Regions from separate parts of the Homo sapiens genome. Here region 2 is linked to region 1. Evidence: fine-mapped expression QTL. A gene starts in region 1. The other region holds a variant in brackets. All regions are shown on one strand. Distances are between the middles of the regions.

Evidence for each region. PIP is the estimated chance that this variant, and not a neighbour inherited with it, causes the effect.
Region 2: its variant is the best candidate, but not a certain one, in a credible set for the expression of VDAC1 in lung (TOPMed, PIP 0.70).

Annotation. Positions count from the first base shown.
Region 1 is chr5:134,003,275-134,006,176 of GRCh38, forward strand. VDAC1 (voltage dependent anion channel 1) reads right to left here and starts at 1,701. Exons shown (of 9, transcript NM_003374.3): 1 at 1,621-1,701. RefSeq lists enhancers at 425-474, 485-534, 2,185-2,304, 2,375-2,434, 2,475-2,544 and silencers at 765-1,804, 1,865-1,924, 1,965-2,014.
Region 2 is chr5:134,025,358-134,028,259 of GRCh38, forward strand. It overlaps a transcript of VDAC1 not described here. Among named protein-coding and RNA genes, the nearest start is that of VDAC1, 22 kb to the left of the region's middle. The variant G/C (reference allele first, on the strand shown) is at 1,583.

The DNA.
Region 1 (2,902 bases):
GAAGGCTGGCCCTCGGTAGTCTGCTCTGGCCTTCTCCTGCCTCAGTGGAGAAGTTTAGGCAACAGAGGAGCCCTTTCCCCTATCTCCCCAGGAGAGGGGAGGCTAGTCAAGGGGACAGGGACCCCGGGCGGAACGGGCTCTAAACCAGGGTCTGCTCCTGCATTCAAGATCTCCACATGCAAACTTACTGCTCCAGCTTGACAATGTCCATTTGTAAACTTACAAGATTTTTCATAAATTAAGCTGAAAGTTACTCAATACCTGGTATACAAATGCTTGTCAATAATAGTGAAAGAATGTTTAAAAACAGGAGCTACATTTATTGAACCCCTTCCACAACGCCACGTGTAGCAAAATGGTCTGCGGGGGATGGGCTGGATTCACCCAAAAAGCCCCAAGGGTGTCAGGGTTTCTACTTAGCCCTTCTCCACACCGGCACTGTTCTAAAGGTTTCATGCTAATTAATTCATTTTATTATTCCCCAAAACTCATCGAAGGAGAGGTACAATTGCTCCCGTCCTATAGATGAGAAAACGAAGGTATGGGGACTTCCCAGCTGTGTGACCTTGTACAAACCACTAAGACTGCGGGCCTCTAATCCAAAGTCAGGCTCCGAAACAGTTTCCAGAATGCACCGCCGCATTTGGCGAATGAATGAACGACCGAACCAGTAATCACTCCTAAGACCAAGAAGGCCACATCCTTCCCCGTGGGGCCTCCTTTTCCGAGGCCAAACCTTCAGCCCAGGCCCGAGCTCCGGCCTCTACCGCCTAAGTCGACTCTCGGCCGGCGCGTTCCGCTCTAGAAGGCTCTGGCACAGGCGGGCGGTGCCGGGCGCCAGCTTCTGCGGGCGTGGGCCGGCCAGGGCGCGTGGGCCTGGGGACTCGGGGCCACGGTCGTCACGTGAGCTCATCCCCGAGGCGGCAGCGTGGCCGGCACCCGCCCGCTGGCCTGGTCCGGCGAGCGTGGGCGGCGAACGGGTCCCCGCCGGATGCACGCTGGTGGGATCCAGGGCCAGAGGGCGCCGCCGGGGAAGGTCACCTAGACGCGCGGCCCGCCGGGCCTCCACGCGGCCGCCCTTGCACTTCCGCCCGCAAGCCCGGGCCGCCTCTCGCCGCCAGCCGCAGGCGTCTCTGGACCCTCGGCCTCGCGCTCCCCAGCCCAGACCTGTTCGGCACCCGCCTGTGCGGCCTTCTCTGCCCGCCCGCTCACCAGCCAGGCCCGCGCCGGCCGCTCGCGATCCCTCCCCGCGGCCGGGCTGCCGGGGCCCCTCGCCCGCTCCTCCCTCAGCGCCTCCCTCTCAGCTCCCCAGGGGCCTGGCCCCCGCCGTCCAGGGCGCAAGGAAGCCGGGGTCCTTTTCCGCTGCGCCTACCTCAGAGGATGTGGCGGCGGGCTCGGAGGCGGCTACGGCGGGGGCTGCGACGCGGAGGCAGGGAGCCGAGCCAGGGAGCGGAGCCGAGCGAGCGGCTGGGCCAAGGGCGGGGCGGCGCGGACGGCGGCGGCGCGGACCCGCCTCCCCTCCTGCGCGCCCGGCCCGGCGCGCTCCGCCCCCAGGCCCCGCCCGGGACAGCGTCCAGGCCGGGCCAGGGTCCCCATCCCGCTAGCGAGCCGCGTTCTTACCCTTCCGGGCCCCGCTGCCCCGGCAGCAGACACAGGAGCCTGCGGGCGTGTTGCGGGCGCGCGGGAGGACCTGCGTGAGTCGGGGCACGGGGAGGCGCCGGACTGACGTGTGCACCGTGTGTGCGTGCGCAGGGACACGCGGGTTCTTGCTGGAAACCTCGGCCCCAGTGGCAGCGCTCGGGAAGGGGGAGGAGGCCTTCCGATTCTCTGAGCTGTGGCCCGGAGGTCCCTGCGCTAATGGAAGACGCGCGGGGCTCCTGGGCCTCCTGCTTGGCCTCCGCGCTGCTAGATCCCCCGGGAGTTGATGTGGCCGGCGCTGGACCCAAGCCTCGCCTGGGTGGACAAAGTGGCCCCCGGCCCCCCATCAAAGCCCGCGTGGGCCCCATCCCCCGAGGGCAGTCCCAGGCCCAGCGCGGACACTGGGCGCCTGGGGCGGCGCAGATACAGAGTAGAGGCGGCGACTGTTGCTCCCGAGCTCCGCGCTCCGGATACAATGTGTCTGGCGCCTCCGACCCGCCCGCGCGGCGTCTAGACAATCTCAGAGAAAACCCCTGTGCGCCGATTTTGCACTACAGATTAGCGATTTTCTCCTGTAGCAAAGCTACTAGCAGCCAATTTCCATGCATTTGAGAGGCAAAAAGACAAAATAAAACAAAACGTGGATTGGGTTTTGCGAGGTCCCTGCTGGGTCTCTCGGCGCGAGGAGATCACGCCGGTTATGGCCGGCCGGCCGACTGAGGGCACCCCGGGTAACCCCCGCGACCAGCCGGGGCGTGTCCTGCGGGACCCAGTTAGTGTGTGTTGAGTGAACGGTCACCTCGCTGCTAGGCCTAAGCGAGTGGTCTCGTTCACCACTGAGTGTCCCCTGTGTTACGCGCGAGGCCCACTCGAAGCAGGTTTCGAGAATTAATTCGTAGATGGACGAAGATTCTACACATCCTTCGCCTTTGATCAACAAACGTCCTGGAAGGCTTGAGGCGTCTAGGGCCCTGTGGAGGAGGTGCCGGGTTACAGAATCAGGACACTCCTCACAGCCAGCTGCGACACTATCTAAAGCAGTGGGCAACTGGGGCTACGGAGGAGGCAATCAGGACTGGCTGCTGGGAAAAGGCGGCAGATTAAAAGTGGCGACTGGAGTTGGAAAAGGTGCTCCAGTGGGATAGGGTGCTGAGGAAGAGGGCAGCTGATACAGAGTGGGAGTGGGGTGCAGACAGGTTACCTAGGCCCTGTGTAGGGGCTGGGGGAGGGGTGACTGGGAATGTAAGGAAGAGCCCCCTTCAAG
Region 2 (2,902 bases), 22 kb after region 1:
AAGAGGTTCACCCCCATGAGTCAAACACCTCCCACCAGGCCCCACCTCCAACACTGGGACTCGCACGTCAACATAAGATTCGGAAGGGACAAATATCTAGACCATATCAGAGGCTCAAATTGAGGTGAGGGCAGCAGTAGGGGTGGGGGAAATGGATGAATTGGACTTATTTAGGAAGTAGAGCCAGTAGGATTCAGTGATGGAGGTGATGTTTCCCTCTCTCCCTCTCTCTTATTTATTTATTTATTTTTATTTGAGTTCTCACTCTGTCACCCAGGCTGGAGTGCAGTGGCGCAATCTCTGCTCACTGCAACCTCAAACTCCTGGGCTCAAGCAATCCTCCCACCTCAGCCTCCCGACTAGCTGGGACTACAGGTGCACACCACCATGCCCAGCTAAGTTTCTTTTCATTTTTTTTCATAGAAATAGGGTCTCACTATTTTACCTAGGCTGGTCTTGAACTCCTGGCCTCAAGCGATCCTCCCACCTCAGCCTCCCAAATGGAGGTGATGTTTCTAGCTGTGGAACTCAGGGTCTGGCCCAGCCTCTACTGGGTTGGAGGAGGGGCAGGTTTAGGGAAAGATGTGAGTTTGGATTGCCATGGGCAGTGCCAACCTTCTGCCTTTTCCACCGAGCCTGGCCTGGGGGAGGGAGTTGCCTGGAATCACCACCAGTCTGGCCACGGGGAGTCATTGCCGGGCAAGCAGCTAGACATGATTCCAACCCTCACACTCCCTGCCCTCATGCAAATCCGAACATCCAAGCCCTGAATTAGAGAGATTCTAAGGGAGAGGGATCTCTGCATCTGCAGGAAAAGGGAGAGGGAAATAAACAAAGTTGGCCCAACTTTTTTTAAACATCACTAAATGGCTGGGTGTGGTGGCTCACGCCTGTAATCCCAGCACTTTGGGAGGCCGAGGTGGGCAGATCACGAGGTCAGAAGATCAAGACCATCCTGGCTAACCGTCTAACACGGTGAAACCCTGTCTCTACTGAAAATACAAAAAATTAGCCAGGCGTGGTGGCGGGCGCCTGTAGTCTCAGCTACTCGGGAGGCTGAGGCAGGAGAATGGCGTGAACCCGGGAGGTGGAGCTTGCAGTGAGCCAAGATCACGCCACTGCACTCCAGCCTGGGTGACAGAGCGAGACTCCGTCTCAGAAAAAAAAAAAAAAAAAAAAAAACACTAAACATTTGATCAAAATGATAGAAAAATGTCCCATCCCCACTGACTCCCCTGGCTGCCACACACCCTAGCTGGCCTTATTTGCGGCTTCCCTGGCCCAGTCTTAGAGCCAGGGCTTTACCAGCCAAGCCAGCTGCATTCCACCTGGCAGGCAAGTTGCCTCCCTGTGGACTGGAGCTTAATGAGCCATGGGTGCACTCCCACCTACTCACCAACAAGTGGCAGCACTCTCCAAGCCCGTCACCCCAAGCCTGCATGGATCTGCACAAAGGTAAATTCTCAAGACAGATTTTCCCCTGTGTGAAACTGGCATCAGATTCCCTCATTTACAGATGTGGAAACTGAGGCTGCTGAAGAAATGCTTCTAAGCCTGAGCTGCAAAGATTTCATTCCCACTA[G/C]AGCGTTAGGCTGGTTTTCTGACCCAGTTCCAAGGGCAACCTGGCCCTGGACTCCCAGGGGCATTTGACAATATCTGGAGATGTTTTTAACTTCACAGCTTTGGGGAAGAGGTGTTGCTACTGGCACCTGCCAGGTGGTGGCCAGGGGTGATGCTAAGCATCTTACACAGGACAGGCCCCAACCCCGCCCTATAAAGAAATGTCTAGCCCAGGATATCAACAGTGATGAGGTTGAGAAACACTGATTCAATCAGATTCTCAAGAGTCAATGGCCTGCAAAGTGCTGAGACGTCCCTGGATCAGGGGCCCCTGGATAGGATGATCCCAGCCCTCCTCCCTCTCCCGCCCCATCAGCAGCCATGAGAGGGGCTCCCGTTGCCTCCTTCACCTGCAGGTCTCCCTCAGACCCACTGCTTCATGACCAGTTCCCGAGCAGCAAGGTGTGCAGGCGCTGTGCCGGGCCCTGGAGAGAACATGGGGGACAAGAGAGCGACAGCCCCTCCCTGCCTTCCTTCCAGCAGCTCAGGCTGCAGGGAGAGACAAAGTATTTGCAAATGTGACAAGTGCCAGGGTGGGACAAAAAAGGGACTGAGACACAGAATAATACAGAGGGGACCAACTTAAACAAAGAAGATTGGAAAAGCCTCTGAAAAGGTGACTGCTGAGCTAAGGTCTGAAGAACGAGCCACCCACATTAATTGAAAAGACAACACAACCAACACTAACTTTCATTTGTTTCAATTACCCGTGATCTTCTCCCTGCCCACCTACCATGACTGCAACTCTGTTATTTTTGGTATAATAAATTCATTTCCAGATCTTGCCTACTTTTTTTTTTTTTTTTTTTTGAGATGGAGTCTCGCTCTTGTCACCCGGGCTGGAGTGCAGTGGTGTGATCTCGGCTCACTGCAACCTCCGCCTCTCAGGTTCAAGCGATTCTCCTGCCTCAGTCTCCCAAGTAGCTGGGATTACAGGCGCCCACCACCATACCCTGCTAATTTTTGTATTTTTAGTACAGACAGGGTTTCACCATGTTGACCAGGCTGCTCTCAAACTCCTGACCTCAGGTGATCTGCCTGCCTTGGCCTCCCAAAGTGCTGAGATTACAGGCATGAGCCACTGTGCCTGGCCATGTCCAGGTATTTCTATAGCATTTTAGCCATCCTTTGAGTGTGTGTATACATTTATATATTTATTTATTTATTTATTTAGAGACAGAGTCTCACTCTGTTGCCCAGGCTGGAGTGCAGTGGTGCCATCTCGGCTCACTGCAACCTCCACCTTCCAGGTTCAAGCAATTCTCCTGCCCCCACCTCCCAA